Linked DNA regions of Homo sapiens: region 2 is linked to region 1. Evidence: fine-mapped expression QTL. A gene starts in region 1. The other region holds a variant in brackets. All regions are shown on one strand. Distances are from middle to middle. Region 1 holds the start of WDR75 (WD repeat domain 75). Region 2 overlaps COL5A2 (collagen type V alpha 2 chain).

What was found. PIP is the estimated chance that this variant, and not a neighbour inherited with it, causes the effect.
Region 2: its variant is fine-mapped to the expression of WDR75 in whole blood (INTERVAL, PIP above 0.99).

Annotation. Positions count from the first base shown.
Region 1 is chr2:189,439,075-189,443,477 of GRCh38, forward strand. It overlaps WDR75 (WD repeat domain 75), which reads left to right and starts at 2,400. Exons shown (of 21, transcript NM_032168.3): 1 at 2,400-2,504. The coding sequence starts at 2,419. It also overlaps a transcript of COL5A2 not described here. RefSeq lists enhancers at 1,266-1,964, 1,736-1,895, 1,916-2,135, 2,396-2,525, 2,546-2,775 and 1 more.
Region 2 is chr2:189,170,495-189,174,897 of GRCh38, forward strand. The region is part of intron 1 of COL5A2 (collagen type V alpha 2 chain); the gene reads right to left. Among named protein-coding and RNA genes, the nearest start is that of COL5A2, 7.1 kb to the right of the region's middle. The variant C/CTT (reference allele first, on the strand shown) is at 2,474.

The DNA of each region.
Region 1 (4,403 bases):
TTCAGGTTATTTCAAATGTTACCTTCTCAGTAAGGCTTTCCCTGAAAACCCATAATAAAGGTGATCAAACCCTTATAATCACTTTCTTTTCTACTTTGAGTTTCCCCTTGGCACATAAATACATCAAAAGTATAATAAGTTTTTGTTTCTTCCCATGATAAGGTAAGGTCCAGTAACATACAGATTTTGTTAACTATTTTTCTCACTCCAGTATTCCCAGAGCCTGAAAGAATGTCTGGCATATACTAGGCACTTAGTAAATATTTCCTGGATGGAAGATGCCAAATAAGTGTTTCTGGAAAATCCTTTTCCTTCTGTATATAGGCTATGCTCTTTCTTGCTATTCCCTTATTTCTTCTAACTGAAAGGAACATGAACTGTGAGCATAAGGACAAAACCAATATGGTTAAGGACAATAACACAAAGAACAAAGTAGAGAAAGCACAGGTCCCTGGTGGCATGAATGATCCACTGCACTAGCCCTATTCTGCCTACCTCAGCCTTCTTGTTACATGATAAAGACAACGCACTATTAATTAAACAGCTGTAGGTGGGATTGGTTCCTTAAAAATTATGTAAAAAGAAATCAAAATACAAATGACTTATCTTTCTGGGCACTTCAGTAAATTAAAACTCTGTGTAAAATAATCCTCCTATACATTTATCAATCCAGCTAGTTTTTGTCCATATCAGGATTTCTGATTCTTTTCTGAAAAATCTAAAGTTACCATACAGTAACATACAACTAAAGTCACACTAATTTGAGTGAAAATATTTATTTTGTTTCTTGGCTCAGGCCCTAAGGAAAAGCCTGTATCAGGTTACAAAGTACCCAACAAAGTCTTTAAAAGATTTATTGTGCATACATCAAGAGACTAAACAAAAAGAGGTTAAGGCTGCAGAATCAAAAGTGATATTTTACACTCCATCCACTGTGACAAAGGGTATCACAGTCATGAAAGAGAAAGCTGGTTACAGCTTGAGATAAACCAAAATTATTAAATATCTCCCTTTCTAGTTCTGGCTCCCCAAATAATAAAGTTTTGAGCACTTTAATAAGCTAGACTCCTCAGTAAAAAGTAAATTTATCCCTGATTTTTACAGTGGTGCTGTCCCAGGATATGTCTTGACCTTTGTGAATATTGTATTTCTCCACCATAAATAAACTTATAGGTATAATCATGTGTGGCTTAATGATGGGGATATGTTCTAAGAAATGCATTTTAGGTGATTTCATCATTGTGTGAATATCACAGAGTGTACCTACACAAACCTAGATGGTACAGCCTACTACACACCTAGGCTGTACGTTATAGCTGATTGCTCCTAGGCTACAAATCTGAACAACATGTTACTGTACTCAATATTGCAGGCAATTGTAACAGAATAGTATTTGTGTATTTAAACACATAAAAGGTACAGTAAAAACACAGTATTATAATCTTACGGAATCACCATGTTATATGCATTGATTGAAAGATCCTTATGTGACATGTGACTATATTTGAGACCTTGGTAATTTTGTGGTAAATCCACAAATCAAGAAGCGAAATCAAAATAGGCAACATAATATACAGGGTCCAAGAATATGATACGTGTAAGTTTACAAAGGAAAACTGGAGATAAACTGGCAAAAATAAACATGTTGAGATTTTAGGGGTTCCTAACCCACAGATTCTATTCACTAATGGGAAAAGGTAAAACTCAGGAAACCAGAGACCAGCGCCCTGAAACCTGGCGGGACTGGCCGAATGTCAGATTAGCCCGAGCAGCTACACTGAACGCTGCGGAAGATGCACCAGAATCCCGGAGTAGGAGCCAGATTTCCAAAGGAAGAAAGCTAGGCCCTAGGACTGTGGAGATTCTGTAGTAACCTAAGCGATGTTCACAAGAACAGAAGAACGGCTAATGAGAGGAACAAAAAGCTGTACAAGGAAGAGAAAGCTACCTTTCCACCCAATAACTCAACGCTGCGACCGAGAAAACCAGGGACGCGAGAGGCTCGCGTCATCCTGCAGCGCCGACACCACAGACACTAGAAAGCGACGCCTCCGGTGGGACGACTGGAGGTCACGTGGTACACTATACGCCACCTTTCCCTTCTGGCGGAAAAAGCCATAGAGTCAGGTTGACAAGGCCTGAGAGAAATATGTCTGTATTAAATAATTGTGTATAGGTATATAATAAAAACTGATTGTCTCTAAATCTCTGTTTTGCTTTCACCTTTTCTTACAAGTGTCTTAGTTTGACATTGCCCACACAAAAGGTGCCTGCACGGAAGCGGAGTCCTACCACCGAGTCTCAGGCCTAGAAGGGCCCGGGGGTGGGTTCTGTGGGCTGGGAACAGCCTTATTACCCGGCTCAACGAAGGAAGTTCAGGGCGGGACCAGAGATTGGCCATTCCGCTACTGCGCAAAGATGGTGGAGGAGGAGAACATCCGCGTGGTTCGTTGTGGCGGCAGCGAGTTGAACTTTAGGAGAGCTGTGTTCTCTGCAGATTCTAAGTATGAGGGGCACCGCGCTTTGTCGGCTGAGGGGCGGGGCGTGAGTTTCTCGAGGGTCGGGGAGAAGGAATTGTCAGTCGCGTTCGGACTCGCCCGCCTGGCGGATATCGGCTTTGGGTAGAGCACGCGCCTGTGGGGGATCCCCAGGGTACCTGGGAGGTCCCGTTACCACTGCAGATTGGGTTGCGTCCCCCGATTCCTGGACAGTTTACCTGCAGGTAGATAAAGGCCCTGGAGCCGGTCTCCGTGTCGAGGATCTGGAAGGTGTTCGGGCGGCTGGAAAATGGTCCAGGGGTGGATGTGTATGCCACTACCTTTGCAGTACCTACTCTTTCGTACAGAATCATGTTTTGGAGTGACTAAAACCTAAAACTATTCCGCTTTTTCTACCCACTCCTCACTCCTGAAGCATAGTGCATGAAGCATAGTGCAGTCTTTTCGGAACTTTACATGAAAACAGATGTTAGATTCTTTATGAGATAAAAATACGCTAAGACTTGGTCTCTTTTCTCAGTGTAGCTGGAAACCAAACCACTCCCTGGCTTCAAAATCCACTTCTTACATTATGAAACCTTTGTAAGTTTCTTAATCTTTGCCTCAGTTGCCATCATCTGTAAAGGGGGACAATATTTAGTTCATCTCACGTGGTTATTGGGAGGATTAAATGCCTCAATATGTTAAAACTACAGACAACAATGCCCGGCACATAATGGCTCAATGTATGTAGCTGTAATCATTATTACTGTATTGTCAGGTTTTCAAATAACTTTAGGTAGGGTGGCACTTAATAAAATCAAAAAACCCTTTCTGCCTTAGAAGAGTAGAGATAGTATTTTATGAAAGTTTGTAGCCTCCACAATATTCTTTTTTTTTTTTTTTTTTTTTTTTTTGATGCAGAATCTCACTCTGTCACCCAGGCTGGAGTGCAGTGGCTCAATCTAGGCTCATTGCAACCTCCGCCTCCCTGGTTCAAGCAATTCTGGTGCCTCGGCCTCCTGAGTAGCAAGTATTATAAGCGCGGGCCACCACGCCCGCTAATTTTTGTATTTTTAGTAGAGAGAGGGTTTCGCCATGTTGGCCAGGCTGCCCTGGAACTCCTGGCCTCAAGTGATCTGCCCACCTGAACCTCCCAAAGTGCAGCGATTACAGTGAGCAACTGTGCCCGGCCCACCCCCACAATATTCTGCATATGAGTGTACGACAGGTAGTTGTTGAAGGTAATGCAAGCATGACTGAAAGAGCTTTTATAAATTGCCTTAGAAGCCAAAAAAAAATGAGTCCTGTGGCTTTGTTGACATTGATCTTATGAATCAAAGGAAGAAACAGGCTTTAAGAGGCTGTCACACTGTGACGCTTCGGACTCATATCCATGTAACCAGTACTGTTCTTATACCTTATTCATTATAATGAGGTCCATTGTGTGTTTGATTTGCTAAGCCCAACAATTCATTTTTTAAGTACTTGTCAACTATATATTATGTATAACATGCTGCAGTGACAAAAACTAAGATAATTTTAATATTGATCCTGCCTTCGAGGAGCTTACAGTCTAGTGAGGAAAAGGAATACTCAGTAACAGATTTTTCTTACTGTGGTCCTGTAGGAAGGAGCTCATAAGAAGAGATTACTTCCCAAACTAAGAAGGACGGAGAAGATTGCTGAGCAAATGACATTTGTGCTAGGCCTAGATGATATTTTAAGTGGGGAATATGGACAGAAGACATTTCAGGTGGGGAGGACAGTGTAAGCAAGAAAGACAGAAGTGATTTCTGTTGAACAGGCTGGTACAGTTAGCTAGTAAGAATGGTATATATTAAGGGAGGTAGTGGGAAATGAGGTTGGAAAGGACACGTGCAGCCAGTTGTTGGTTGTTGTTTGGACCAAAGAGAATGGTTTTTT
Region 2 (4,403 bases), 270 kb before region 1:
TGAAGCAGAACTTGGAGGAAAACATCAATAGGCAGAGGGAAGATAAAAAGAGAAGCACTGAAGTACCTAAATCGCAAAAGTTAGATGTGGGAACAGTAAAAAGTTAGATCTGAAGTGAGAAAGGATGCTGCATGGTGTGCTGCAATCAGTAGTGTTAAGGACAATAATGGAAATCATAGTATTTGTTTAGATACAGTGGAGGAGAACATGAGCAGTCTTGCAAGGCAGCTGGATACTCTTGGCACTCTTAGGTAAAAAAAAAAGTCACACAGAAGTAAGGTCAGTATAATGTGTTAAGTGTGATGCAACAGTCAATGGCAGCTTGGAATAAATTGTTAATGTTAATAAATTATATTAATAATTAATAAATAATGTTAATAAATTATAATGTCACTGGAGAGTGACATTATAAAAGTGGGACTTAGCCTAATCTGGTGGGAATGTGTAAAACGGATTCATGGAAAGAAAGCATTCTCAGTATGGTATTGTTCCTGCATGGCAGAGGTGTACTGACTGTTGTGAGATGGCCAGAGGAGCACTTAGCTCAACTAATGAGAGAATGTCAGTTCTGGGTGGAATCTGGACAGTAGAGAATGAAAGGGGATAGAGAGAGAGTGAGAGAGAGAGTTTGTGTGTGTCTGTGTGTGTTGGGGGTGGCAGCCTCAAGCAATTCCTTATTTTGAGGCTGAGAATGACAGTTGATGCGACTAAAACTCAGAAATGGGCTAGATCAGCAGGATCTTGTATGTCACACTAAGAAGCTTGAACCTTATTCTTTCTACAAGTTACAGGACCCAATGAAAGTTGTTAAGGAAGGTAAATACAAAATTAGATAGTTTTATATCACACTAGCAACAGAAGGCACCAATATATGTGTTTGTTGGAAAGCAGATACATGAGAGGCAAGGAGATGAATTTAGATGCTATCACAGTAACTGAGGGATAGATGATGAGGGCCTAAACTGAGGCATTTGTAGTAGGGATGGAGAAGAGGTACACTTGAGAAACATTTAGCAGGTAAAATGGTAGATCTTAGTGAACGATTGGAATTGTGCTGATTGAATGACTGACTGAATGACCGGGTAGCATCATGTTGCCATTAACTGGCATAAGGGGGACTACATAAGCAAAATGACCAAGTCTTGAAGGGAAGCCAATAAATTAAGTTTTGGATACACTGAATTTCATGTGGTTCTAGGCTGCCTTTGGGACAGCTGAATATATTTATTTATCTAAAGTTCATGTGAAAGATTGGGGTTGAAGAGATGTTATAATTATCAGCATTCAGCTGTTAAACAAAACCCTTAATTCTAGGTGGCCTAGGAAGAGAATATCCAGAGAGAACCAATGAACTAAATCTTGTAAGAAAAGCAAAATGCTACAGGAAAAGAGAAGAAGGAGCCCATGGATGAAGCTGAGAGGGAAAGGTCAGGGAGGTGGAGGAAGAACCTTCAGAGAGTAGCATTTTAGGAAAGCTGGAGTGGTCAATGGTCTCCAATAAAGGAGAAAGGCCTGATAAGATAAGATGAAAAGGGACCCTTGGAATATCACACATTTTAATCCTCACCATGCTAGACCAGCTTAAGTGGAAAGAGAGGCCAAGTGAGGGCATAGGAGGCAGAGACAGAAAACTGCACTGCTCCTTTTAAAGCAGCTGGGCTAAGAATAAAGACTGGGTGGGAGCTAGACACAGGCTGTGGGAGAGAGCTGAACTTGTTTACAAGCTAAAGGGAAAGAGCAGATAGAAAGGAAGTGGCTGAAGTTATAGAAAAGAGAGCATGACTGATGGAACAAGTTCCTCAGGGAGATGGAGAACAAATAAAACACAAAAGAACAAGTCCAGGAGGTGCTTCAAAACAATTCAAAGATTTGGTGAAAGCAATTTAAAAATACACCACTAGGGTTTATATCTGTGGTCAGTGAAGTAGATTGTAATGTCACTTTCCGTGTCTCATTTAAGTACTCTAAAATTACTTTTAAGTAAATTTCTTAAATGGTCCTCCTAAGAATCCCATCAGATGACAAAGGTGCATACTATTTCCTCAATATTTCAGATGAGGACACAAATTCCCAGTGAGGTTAAGGACCCTCTGCAGGTAGCAAAACTGCTAAATAGAACGAGGACCAGAACCCAGCTGTTCTCTCACATGATGGCTGGACCAAGCTTTATTATACTTGTTATACTACATAGACTACAACGAGGCTATGATGCTTACGTTGCAAGTAGTGTTTCCACCAATAATATAGTTTGCTGTCATCTTAAAGCTGAATTCACAATTCTGATTGGGCATCTCAAATAAAAGGTAAAAAGGGGTACAAAACTGTGAGACTGTCTTTCCTCCTTCTTAATCCTAAACTTAAAAAAAAAAAGCATGTAAACATTTTTGAGTTTGAACATAACACCAGAAGGCTATAGGAACAAAGTTTGATTAATTAATTAATATTAATTAATATTGTTAACATTTTTCCTCTT[C/CTT]TTTTTTTTTTTTTTTTTTTTGAGACGGAGTCTCGTTTTGTTGCCTAGGCTGGAGTGCAGTGGCATGATCTCTGCTCACTGCAGCCTCCCCCTCCCAGGTTCAAGCGATTCTCCTGCCTCAGCCTCCCGAGTAGCTTGAATTACAAGTGCCCACCACCATACCCAGATAAATTTTTTTGTATTTTTAGTAGAGACAGGGTTTCACCATGATGGCCAGGCTGGTCTCAAAATCCTGACCTCAGGTGATCCGCCCACCTCAGCCTCCCAAACTGCTGAGATTACAGGAGTGAGCCACACACCCAGCCTCTATCTTCTCTGTAGAAGGCAAGATTTAGATAGGAATAATCTTGCTTTATTGTAATTTCCCTTATACATTGTTTCTTAGTGAATATTTTAGTATAAGATGAAGCCACCTTGATTTATTTGAAGGGTTTAGTTTTTAAAACATTGATAAAATGAAATAAAAACCTTAAGGTTGCCAATATGGTCACACCTTTAAAGCAAAATTTTCCATAGGATAGAGTACTTCCCATGCAAATGCCAAGAGTAAATAGTCTTTTAAATATTGAATATCACAGCTCATTCATCTTACGTAAAATTTAGATAAATATATATGAACTTTATATGGAGATAAATTTAAGAAAACTAGATTATCAGTATCTTCCTGATAATTTCATTCAGACTCCAAAAGCCTACTCAAGCTGTGACTTTTAGATATAAGAAAAGTTCAAAGACTTCATATTTATCAGTAAGTTGATACTGTCTCGTGCTACATTTTTAGTGAAAATTATAGTTTCATGGATATAAATAATAAAAAATATTAAATCAAGGAATATCTTTATATAATTCCAAGATTTGTCTTATATAAACTTGTGTAACTTGCCCAAATTTATACAATAGATCAATTAATAATCAACACTTCCAGTCTTTTCCCCCACCCTTACTATATCTCTAATGTATAAATCTAAGCTTTTCAATGTTGTGATCTCAGAGAAGAAAATCCGATTAAAGATCAGTTGATCCATGTCCATACATTTTAAGAATGCCATGTAAGGCCAGGTGATGATGCATTAATCATTCTTCAAACCAGAGAAAACTGTATGATTTTTAAAAACTACATTCTGTGGCCATAGATTAACACGATTCCAATCTTCTAATTTCCAGCTTCTTAAAACAAAGCTTCCTCTTTCTGCTTTTGCCTCACATCCTGCATTAGGTACCTGTCTAGAATGATGAACACAATGAATTTCAGGCCTGTAGCGATAGTGCTCAAAGTGTGAAGAGCAGAAAGTAAGAGAGAGGAAATATTGAAAATGAAAAACATGCATTCACCTGGAAACACATGCAAATGGCATGTGTCTTCTGCATAGTAGAATGATTCGCCTAATCCACCATGAGGGGTATTTGGGCCTTGAGTTATTTTTCCAGAAGTGATGGTGACTTTGCAATGGTTTACCTACAAACTTCAACTAAGCAGCCTTATAAGTAAAATGAATAACTAGAATAGCAAGTTATTACCAAAATCTTAATGTGTAGCCTCGGAACATAAAAGCCAACAGGTCCACAACAAGATTCAGAGTGTCAGTCAAAGATTTAATACAGTGGTTCACCAATGTAAATCAGAGTCAACTGGAGAGCTCTAAAAACATACAGATGCCCAGACCCCATCCAAACTTCCTAGATATTTGGAAAGTAGAGGGGTCTAGAATCTATATTAGTCACAAGATCTTAGGTGATTCTTTATACCATTTTTTATCAACACTGATCTGTGGCTTGCTTACCAATGACCCTACGAGTCATGGTCCAAGTATACATTGTGTTAGTCAATATTAAAAATTCACTAAATCTATGAATCTACCAATGTACATATGTAGAAAGAGATATACTCTTCAAACTAAAGCTTCAGTTTAGTTTGAATAGAAGTTATAGG